Linked DNA regions of Homo sapiens: region 1 is linked to region 2. Evidence: fine-mapped expression QTL. A gene starts in region 2. The other region holds a variant in brackets. All regions are shown on one strand. Distances are from middle to middle. Region 1 overlaps RPN2 (ribophorin II). Region 2 holds the start of MROH8 (maestro heat like repeat family member 8).

What was found. PIP is the estimated chance that this variant, and not a neighbour inherited with it, causes the effect.
Region 1: its variant is fine-mapped to the expression of MROH8 in anterior cingulate cortex (GTEx, PIP above 0.99). The same link has a PIP of 0.9 or more in amygdala and cerebral cortex.

The regions. Positions count from the first base shown.
Region 1 is chr20:37,237,412-37,242,752 of GRCh38, forward strand. RPN2 (ribophorin II) reads left to right here. Exons shown (of 17, transcript NM_002951.5): 17 at 3,892-4,208. The coding sequence ends at 3,904. Among named protein-coding and RNA genes, the nearest start is that of GHRH, 22 kb to the right of the region's middle. The variant C/T (reference allele first, on the strand shown) is at 2,405.
Region 2 is chr20:37,176,562-37,181,898 of GRCh38, forward strand. It overlaps MROH8 (maestro heat like repeat family member 8), which reads right to left and starts at 2,987. Exons shown (of 25, transcript NM_152503.8): 1 at 2,828-2,987; 2 at 2,662-2,826. The coding sequence starts at 2,919. RPN2 (ribophorin II) reads left to right here and starts at 2,769. Exons shown (of 17, transcript NM_002951.5): 1 at 2,769-2,808. The coding sequence starts at 2,796. RefSeq lists enhancers at 2,327-2,886, 2,395-2,474, 2,825-2,874, 2,887-3,444 and a silencer at 2,995-3,044.

The DNA.
Region 1 (5,341 bases), 61 kb after region 2:
TGCTTTCACCTCTGGAAATCGTTTTCAGATGTGCCGCTTTCTTCTATCCAGGACGTTTGCTGGAAGAATGTAACTCAATAGTGTACCCTCAACGTGGCTGCCAGTTAGGGTGCTGGGATCAGAGAGAGGCTTTTTCAGGGAGACCATCAGTGGGTGGGAGAAGATGTCTCATCTCCGCCCGAGTCTCCATTGTGAGCTTTCTGAGCATTTCACCATGGAGACTCGGCACAGACGTGTTCCTTGGCTTTCCTGTAGGAATCCAGGGCCCACCAGAGCTTCCCTTAGCACCAGCAGTGGCAGCTGGTTCATTTTGCCACCCTCCAGTAGCCTTTTCCTGGTGGTTCTGCATTGTACCTGAGAAAGAGCCAGGACTCAGTTGCTTTTGCAAAGCAGAACCCTGTTCCCTTGCAGCACCTGCCTGGGCCCCCAGGGAGCCAAAAGACTGCTCTGCTAAGTTCTCTCTTTTCTGGAAGTTGCTCACTCGAGAAGAATGAAATCTGCCCGCCATGGTGGCTTATGCCTATAATCCCAGCACTTTGGGAGGCTAAGGCGGGAGGATCGCTTGAGCTCAGGAGTTGGAGACCAGCCTGGGCAACATAGTGAGACCTCGTCTCTCAAAAAATTAATAAAAATTAAGAAAAAAATCAAGACAAGAATTGAGTAGAAACCATTTGGTTTATGTTCTGCTTAGCAGGAGTTCCTAATCTGGAATCCTAAAGTTGTATGCATTTTATGGGGAGAGAGACTATGGTTTTTATCAGAATCCCAGAAGGATCAGTAACTCCTCCCTCTCCCCTGCTCATGTATTCGATTCAAAAACTTAAAGCCCACTCTTCTGTGGCCCTCTTTGTGAGTCCTAGAATGAACTCTACCCTGGAAAAATCAGTGACCCTAATGGAAGCTCTGGTTGGGTGTTTGTCATTTCTTTCCTCAGCTGATTTCTCCCCTCACTGTCCTTTCTTGATTCTCAAACCCTCTTTCCTTTGGCAGGATCGCTGCAGAGCAGAGCAGTAGATTGGCAAAATATAGGACACTACGGTAAAGATGAAGGGCGGACTCATCCCAGAAGCAGGGTCCCTTCCCCGTCTTGCCCGCCTCATGCATGTCAGTTATCTCTCTAGTTTTCAGCCCACTTGCTCCTCCCACCCCTCCCTAAGCCACAGCTGAATTCTGAGGCTGCTTTTCAACTTGCTAGATGAGGTTGTGACTGGACCAGGGCAAAAGCTTCCTGAGTTAGCCCAGCTGATGGGATAACTTTGCAGTGAGCAGCTTTGGCCTGGCTTTGACTGTATAAGACTTCATTCTCCCTTATATCCCGTGGGGTACTTACTTATTTATAGACAAGCCTCTCTCTCTGTTTCCAGGACAGCTGAGATGAGGATAAGACAAATCCAAAATTCATTAAATGACGGTCCCATGGCAAATCCTGGCACACCTTGTCACTGTTTCTAGACTTTTCTGTAACACCGATCTCTAGTTGGGCTAAACATTGTGGTCTGGGGAGACTGTAATTTATGAAGGACTGATGGCCACAGATCAAAGCCAGCATCAGAATCCAGGTTCCTAGCACTCAGGGTATGTTAAAAGGGCTGCTCCCCATGTGACTAAAATGTGAAGTGAGATTCCACTCATTCTCCTTCTGCATATCAGTCCTAGGATGGGAGGGAAGTGGAGGGAAGGAGAAGGAGAGTCTGATGCTTCACTGATCTGCTCCGCTAGACCAGGGTCTGGCAAAAGTTTTCTGTAAAGAGCCAGACAGTATTTTAGGCTTAACTGGCCATATGGTCTCTTGGCACCAACTACTCAACTCTGTCACTGTCATGTGAAAGCAGCCATAGACTGTATAAACAAATGGGTGTGGCTGTGTTCCAACAAAACTTTATTCACCAAGACAGGTGGTGGGCTGGATTTGGCCTGAGTGGCACAGTTTGCTGACCCCTGCCCTAGACCAACAAAGGGAGGGGAGGTATTTGAATTTTCAAGTCATGTTCTCCTTTATCCTTTGCCTTGGAAATGGCTTTCCCTGCCAAAGCCACAAAACCATCTAATTTCTAATCCTCTGAAAATAGGAGAGATCAACAAAAGCATAGTATTTGGAGCCTTTCCATGGATGTGTGAGCATAAGCTGGGTCACCTAGTCCTCAACACAGAAGGGAACTGCATTTGTTTGTTTGTTTGTTTGTTTGTTTGTTTGTTTCCAGGTTTAATGGAGTTGTAATTTATCTGCAGAAAAATGTACCCTTTTTAGTGTACAATTCTGTGAATCCTGAAAAACCTCTGTAGTCATGTAGCCACCACCTCAGTCAAGATATAGGTATTGCCACTCTCCAGAGAGCTCCCCGGTGCCCCTTTTAGAGTCCGACCCTTCTCCCACCCCCACTCCCTGGCTATGCCCGTTTGGTTT[C/T]ATCCTACATTATAGTCACTCTGTCTGAGATTTGCTTTCAGCAACTGTCCTTGCTGCTACATGTTGAGTTCTTTAATTCTTTAAATAAGTCGATTTCTTTTCTTGATTAAAAAGAACTTTTTTTATAGAGATGGGGTCTCATTATGTTGCCCAAGCTGGTCTCAAGCTCCTGGGCTCAAGCAATCCTCCTGCTTTGGCCCCTAAAAGTGCTGGGATTATAGACGTGAGCCACCTTACTCAGTCTCTTGAGTTTTAAAGTCCGTTCCCACCCTGCTATCCCCAAATCATTGCTTGAGGAAGAGGAAAGTCACTTGATCATTTGGACATTTGGCATTTCCTAGCATTTGAAAGGAAACCCCCTGGTAGCAAAGTGTTCTTGATCTGAGGGCAGACATTGATTTGAGCAGACATAATGTGGGACGTAAGTTCTAGCCGCAGTCAAGAGTTGTGGGCCACTACCCTTCGGCTGTTCTTATTTCATACTCATGCCATCCTTTCTGCATGAACATTTCTGAATGCCCACATATTAGTGTACCTAAGAACCTCTGAATACTGGCAAGGAATTAGGGGTGCACACCCCAGCCCTCAAGATTAATTCCATGCCTGTGCATGTCTTTTGGAACTGCTTTATTAATGGGTTTGGAGTCTGCCATTCTGCAAGACTGGATCATTATCACCTTAGTCCTCACCCCTGGGAAGAGCTGCCACTGAAGGATGGTGTGTGTGTGTCAGCAACCCTGCCTCTGCTTGCTGGAGCCTGCTGGGATCAGTTACTCACTGCAGTCACCTCCTCAGCTTCACAGTCTGTCTAGATTGTCATTTTCATTCATTGTGCTTCCCCATCCCTCCTTAGAGTCTAGGGAAAGGCAGCGGAGGGGAAACAAAGAGTACAGGAGATAGGTTCTTATCCCCTTTAACACTTTCTGTGAGCTGAGTCCCATTTTTGAGAATCTTTCTGTGTTAGGTTAGATGCTGAGTGTGACTTGGCAAGAACACGGCCACACGGCAGGAATGTGCAGGTTTCTGTAATGAATGGTCAGGATGTCATGTTCTAAGCTACAGAAGGGCCAAGTGTTGGTTGGCAGAGCTGGAGTCTGGGAGATTGATGATGAGCATTATTTAAACTTTGCTCTTTGTTCATCTAATTGAAATTTACACTGTGTTTTTGGCCTTGCACTGTGAGAGGTGTGCCTGGAATTACCTCATCTCCTTATGTTGTCACATACCACTTTCTTAGTTATTATTGAGTTTGTTTTGTTATTTGTATTTAAGTTGTCATCAGCTTAATTATGAACTAGCTGTCTCACATTCTTTTGTAAAATGAGATGGGGCATACATAAATAGACTTGGGAGATAAATGATTATTCCCTTATAAATGGGATCTTAGAGCGGGAGAGTACCTTAGTCTCTCTGTTGTCACCAGTTAGGAACTGTAACTGTGAACTGAAACCTTCAGTAATTCTGTGTTTGTCTCCATTTTCTTTCAGAACAGCACATTAGTTCCAGAAGAAAGATGGAAATTCTGAAAACTGAATGTCAAGAAAAGGAGTCAAGAACAATTCACAGTATGAGAAGAAAAATGGAAAAAAAAAACTTTATTTAAAAAAGAAAAAAGTCCAGATTGTAGTTATACTTTTGCTTGTTTTTCAGTTTCCCCAACACACAGCAGATACCTGGTGAGCTCAGATAGTCTCTTTCTCTGACACTGTGTAAGAAGCTGTGAATATTCCTAACTTACCCAGATGTTGCTTTTGAAAAGTTGAAATGTGTAATTGTTTTGGAATAAAGAGGGTAACAATAGGAACAAAGGCCTGATTGAGAGCTTATTCTCATACTTTTGGGTGGTGGGGTCCTTGGGTATATGACATGAGGACTTAGTTGGAAATGCTGTTGATGCCAGCATATTTCTCCAGGCCTTTCTTGGTCCTTCTTGCCCCTTGCTCCTAACAGAACTGAGAACTGCCTGGAAAGGCCAGCTTCCTTTTTTCTTCTCCAGCAGTGAGCACCAGCTGTCTGCATAGGAGCCCTGTTGGTATCTGAAGGCCCCATTTGGACCTCTAGGGGTCCAAGGGGATAGGTTTTTATCCCCTTTAACATTTTCTGTGAGCTGAGTCCCATTTTTGAGAATCTTTCTGTGTTAGGTTAGATACTGAGTGTGACTTGGCAAGAACACAGCTAAACAACAGGAATGTGCAGGTGGACTGCAGCTAGGACCTCTGCTCAAGGCTCTTGTCTTGGGGCCAGGCATGGAGGCTCACGTCCGTAATCCCAGCACTTTGGAAGGCCGAGGCAGGGGGATCACTTGAAGTCAGGAGTTTTGAGACCAGCCTGGCCAACATGGTGAAACCCTGTCTCTACTAAAAAACCAAAATTAGCCAAGGGGTGGGCATGGTGGTGCATGCCTGTAATCCCAGCTACTTGGGAGGCTGAGGCAGGAGAACAGCTTGAACTTGGGAGGCGGAGGTTGCGGTGAGCCATTGCACTCCAGCCTGGGCCACAGAGCCAGACTCCATCTCCAAAAAAAAAAAAAAAAAAAAAGACTTGCATGGAGATTTGTTGCAACATGAATTTTCAAGGGACACAAATTCAAACCATAGCACTGACCACTTGAGTGACTTTAGTCTAGAAGGCCACATCTCAAGAATGCCCCCTCTGAAGTTGTGCCCATTACATGAGGTTATATAATAGCACAGAGAGAAGTAATACTGCATAGCATGGTTGACTGCGTAGACTTTGGTTCCAGGCAAACCTAGTGTTGCCACTTACTAGGGTGAGGGACCTTGGGCAAGTAGTTTAACCTCCGTAAACCTCCTTTTGTGTTTCTGTAAAAGAGAGATGATAACTACCTACCTCATAGGATTAAAGGAGTTGAATGCTGACGCAGCTTAGCACTTGGCATCTTTCCTGATTGACCTACGGTTATGTGCCTTGGCCCAT
Region 2 (5,337 bases):
AGGAGGTGAAGGCGGCAGTGAGCTATGATTCCATCACTGTATTCCAGCCTGAGCGACAGATGGAGACCTTGCCTCGTAAAAAACAACCACCGCCAGTGGCTCACGCCTGTAATCCCAGCACTTTGGGAGGCTGAGGTGAGTGGATCACTTGAGGTCAGGAGTTTGAGACCAGCCTGGCCAACATGGTGAAACCCCGTCTCTACTAAAAATACAAAAAAATTCAGCCAGGCAGTGTGGCGCGCGCCTGTAATCCCAGCTACTCGGGAGGCTGAGACACGAGAATCGCTTGAACCCAGGAGATGGAAGTTGCAGTGAACTGAGATTGTGCCATTGCACTCCAGCCTGGGTGACAGAGGGAGACTTTGTCTCAAAACAAACAAACAAACAACGAAGAAGCTGTCAATCTGTTTCCAAAATGGTCGTACCACTTTACATTTCCATCAGCAGGATATGAGAGATCCTGTTGCTCCACATCCTTGCCAACATTTGCTATTGTTGGTCTTTTTCTTTTTCATTAGTCAGGTGTGGTGGCTCCCATCTGTGGTCCACAGCTAGTCACTAGGACCACAGATGCGAGCCACCACACCTGGCTAATCAAAATTTTTTTTTTGTAGAGGCAGGTCTTGCTGTGTTGCCCAGGTGGGTCTCGAATTCCTGGACTCAAGTGATCCTCCTACCTCAGCCTCCCAAAAGCTCTGGGATTACAGACTGAGCCACCATTCCTGGCTGCATATGCTAAGTCTGTGGTGTAAATACTCCCATCATGGCCAAAATCAAGCTACCAATACTACCTTGGGAAGAGATGTTCAATGGCATACTGTCATATATTTCCACCACACAGTTACAACAGATATAAGCAACCACAAAAGCACACAAAACGTAAAATGTAGTGAAATAATTAGAAAATAATGAGTTTTGTTTTCAATATACTTTATTTCATCCTAAATTGATATAATTTTCTAAATGGCTGTATTTAACCAATTTGCAAAATTACTGCAAATTTAACAATGGACTCTCAAGATAGTATGAGACAGCTCCAGCACACCACTGGTTGGTTGTCTTATTCTTGAGCTGGGAGAATTCTTTATATATTCTACATCAGCACTGCCCAATGGAACTTTCTGCAATAATGAAGATGTCCTATAATTTTGAGTGGTCCAATCTGATATCCACTAGTTATCTGTGGCTACTGAGCACTTGAAATGTGGCTAGTACAAATGAGAGACTGAATTTTAAATTTTACTTAATTTTAATCCATTTAAATTCAAATTTAAATATCCACATAAGGCTAGTGGCTATCATAACAGACACAGAAAGAACTGACTCTCTCCCATGCGGGATAACATTTGGGACAATAATAACGTTAATAAGAGTTATATTGTGCATACTTTATATGTTCATAAAACTGTAGTTAAAAGCACAGATTCTGGAGTCAGCTGCCTAGGTTCAAATCTGTTTCCTTCTCTTTAAAATGGGATTAGCCTGTAATCTCAGCACTTTGGGAGGCTAAGGCCGAAGGATCCTTTGAGCCCGAGTTCCAGACCAGCCTGGGCAACAAAGCGAGACGCGGTATCTACCAAAAATAATTTTAAAGATTAGCTGGGCGTGGTGTCGCAAGGCAGCAGTCCCAGCTACTCCGGAGGCTGAGGCGGGAGGGAAGATTGCTTGAGCCCAGGATGTCGAGGCTGCAGTAAGCTGTGATCGCACCACTGCACTCCAGCCTGGGCGACAGAGCAAGATCCCGTATCAATAAAAAAGGAAAGAAAAGAAATAATGCTTGTAGAGCGTTCGGCACAGTGTCGGGTTATACTGTAAACATTCAGTAGTTGGCGCTAGTTATTAGAGCGGTGTTCCTGGATGAGCCACCTCCATGTTGAGCCTGTAAAACTGGCCTAATATGTTCTCTATGAGTCACTGCATTGCTCTGCAAATCAGATAAAACGTCACTCGTAGGTCAGTTATTAACAACCCCACTGATAATCTTTGGAAAAAACTGACATAATTTTCTTTTTCTTTTTTTTTTGGTGAGACGGAGATTTACTCGTTGCCCAGGCTGGAGTGCAATGGCGCGATCTTGGCTCACCGCATCCTCCGCCTCCCAGGTCCAAGCGATTCTCCTGCCTCAGGCTCCCGAGTAGCTGGGATTACAGGCATGTGTGACCACGCCCGGCTAATTTTGTATTTTTAGTAGAGACGGGGTTTCACCGTGTTGCCCAGGCTGATCTCGAACTCCTCACCTCAGGTAATCCGCCCGCCTCGGCCTCCCAAAGTTCTGGGATTACAGGCGTGAGCCACTGCGCCCGGCCAGAAACTGCCACAATTTTCTAAAGAGGAAAAAAAAATCCCTTCTAAGCTATCCCCTCCCGACGAGACCCTTCCTGTTCCTTTAAAATGGGCCGGGCAGCAGAAAGACGAGTGAGTGACAGCAGACAGGCCAATCAGAAGCGGCCCCGTCTCGGGCCCACCCCGAGGCCTGGCCCAACCGCGTCCCGGTAGCTCCCGGAATAGGAGCGTTGCGAGACGGTCGGTTCCAAGTGGGCCTGGGCGCGGGGGAGAGGCGGGTCTGTCCTCGGGAACTGCAAGGCCCTGTGAGCGGGAGGACTGGGATCCCGGCCGCGGCTGCTGGAAGCGTCGAAGCTCAGCGGGGCCGCGGACACTGACCTGTGCTTAGAACTCATCCTGGCCCGCAGAGCCTGCCGCGAGTCCCTGGCGTCCCCTGTGGCGGGCTCTTGGAGCCACTTTCCCGAGCGGAAGTCAGCCCGCGGCTCGGACTCCGGCGGGACCTGCTCGGAGGAATGGCGCCGCCGGGTGAGGAGTTGCGCGTGGCTTTGGGGAGAGGGCTGTCGCCCGCGGGAGGTTACTAGTCGCCGCTCGAGAGCCGGCCAGGCGGGATCCCCTTCCCCTGCGGGACAGGGGCATGGGCACAAGCTCTGGCTGGGGCGCTCTCGGATCGAGGGTCCGAAGGAGGGCTGCGAGCTGGTGGGAGTGCCCGCGACCTGGCGGGGTTGGTGCCTGGGGGAGGGGTGCAGCGCGGAGCTACGGGTCGCCCCGAGGCTCAGCCGTGGGGACCGCGGACGCGCTTAGCCTAGGTCTGGCCTCATTCATTTCACTCGCGCGGGCTTCTGGGCCAGGCGGCCTAAGGTTCTGGTCCCGGCGCTGCCCCTTACTCCGTGTGAGGTTTTGGGCAGATTGTCCTTCTTTGTGCTGTAGTTTCCCATTCAGTGAAAGGGGCAAAGAAAACCCTCACTTCTCTCTGGGAGCCTGGAGCATAAGTTCTCAAGTGACACTCTAGGTGCAAACTTGCAGTCGGCCACGTATTCATTGTGTAACCCAAAGCAGGTTACTTAACCCCTCTACACCTCAGTTTCTCATCTGTAAAATAAGTTAGTCAAATTAGTCACGTTATCTGCCTCGTTGAGTTGCTTTATTAAGTGAAATAATCTTCGTGCTTAGTTTAGAACAGTGCATGGCCCTAGGTAAGAACTAAGTTAACTGCATTGGAAGTTACTGAGTAGACGCTGTGCAGGGTGGAATTTCATGTAGCCTCATCGTAACTTTGGAAGCATGTACTCTTGTTACTACCATTTGACAGATGAGAAGTTGGAATCCCACGGAAGGGAACTTACTTGCCCAGGGTGACACATGAATGAGTCAGTGGCTCACCGTTTCATTATTTGAGAAGTTCAGGATAGTAAAGTGGTTAAAAGCAGACTTTGGATTCAAATTGCCTGAAGTTTGATTTTCAGTGATGTGTCCTAGGGCAGGTAACTACTTCTGAGCCTTACTTTCCTGGTCTGTGAAATGCAGAAAATAGCCACCTTGCTTAGATGTTGTGAGGATTTAATGATTTGGTGTGTGCAAAGCACAGCATAGCGTGGGCATACCTAACATATTAAGTGCTCAACTTTTAGTCAGAAAAGTTACTGCTCTCGTTAACATGGAGTGAGAAGATTAGGATTCTGACACAGGTGCTGTTTTAGGGGAATTTACGGTCTAGGTGGGAAAATGCTAGTCGCAGCCATTCACTAGATCTTCATATATTGGGTACCCGCCTGTGCACAAGGCATTGGGGATTCAGCATTAGTATCTTGACTCCGCTCTCTCTTAGGTCTTTCTGTCCATTAGCAGTTTCTGATAGGCTTTGACTTTGAATTCTAGCCAGACTAACTCTCATCACTTCTCATCATGTTCACTGCTGTTGCCCTGGTTTGGGCCACCATCATCTTCTGGCTTGGATTATGGCGGTAGTCTCCCAACTGGTGTCCCCTGCTCTGTCCTTGCACCTGCATGGTCTGTTCTCCACACAGTATTGTTTATTCTCAACACAGTAATACCATTAGAGTGTAAGTCAAATCACTCCTCTGCTTAGAACTTTCCAGTGGTCTCCAGCCGGGTGCGGTAGCTCACGCCTGTAATCCCAGCACTTTGGGAGGCTGAGGCGGGCGGATCACGAGGTCAAGAGATCAAGACCATCCTGGCCAACATGGTGAAACCCCGTCTCTACTAAAAAGACAAAAATTAGCTGGGCATGGTGGCACGTGCCTGTAGTCCTAGCTACTTGGGAGGCTGAGGCAGGAGAATCGCTTGAACCCGGGAGGCGGAGGCTGCAGTGAGCCGAGATCGCGCCACTGCACTCCAGCCTGGCAACAGAGCGAGACTCTGTCTAAAAAAAAAAAAAAGAACTTTCCAGTGGCTTCCACTACGGTGGTATACAAGGCCCTCTGGATTTGTCCTCTGCTACCTCTGTTACCTCATCTACTTCTTACCCTTTGCTTATTCCACTCAAGCTGTACTGTCCTTGCTGATCTCAAAAAACACTGTATGTGTACATACTCCTGATTCAGAATGTTTGCATTTGGTTTTTCTTTTCTTTTTTTTTTTTTTTTTTGAGACAGAGCCCCAGGCTGGAGTGCAGTGGCACGATCTCAGCTCACTGCCCACTCTGCTTCCCAGATCAAGTGATTCTCGTGCTTCAGCCTCCCTAGTAGCTGGGATTACAGGCCAAGTCACCATGTGCGGCTCATGTTTTGTATTTTTAGTAGACATGGGGTTTCACCATGTTGGCCAGGTTTGTCTTGAACTCCCGACCTCAGGTGATCCCCCTGCCTTGGCCTCCCAAAGTGCTGGGGTTAGAGGTGTGAGCCACTGCGCCTGGCCATATTGGGTTTTTCTTCTTAGCATAGTTTCCCACCAGATATCTTTATGACTTGCTTCTTCTTCAGATCTGTACTCAATATGTTTATTTCTTAGTCCTTCATAGACTACCGTATTTAAAATGCAGCCCTTCCCAAATATCTCTTCTGTACTTTATTTTTTTCCATAGCACTTACTTTGTAA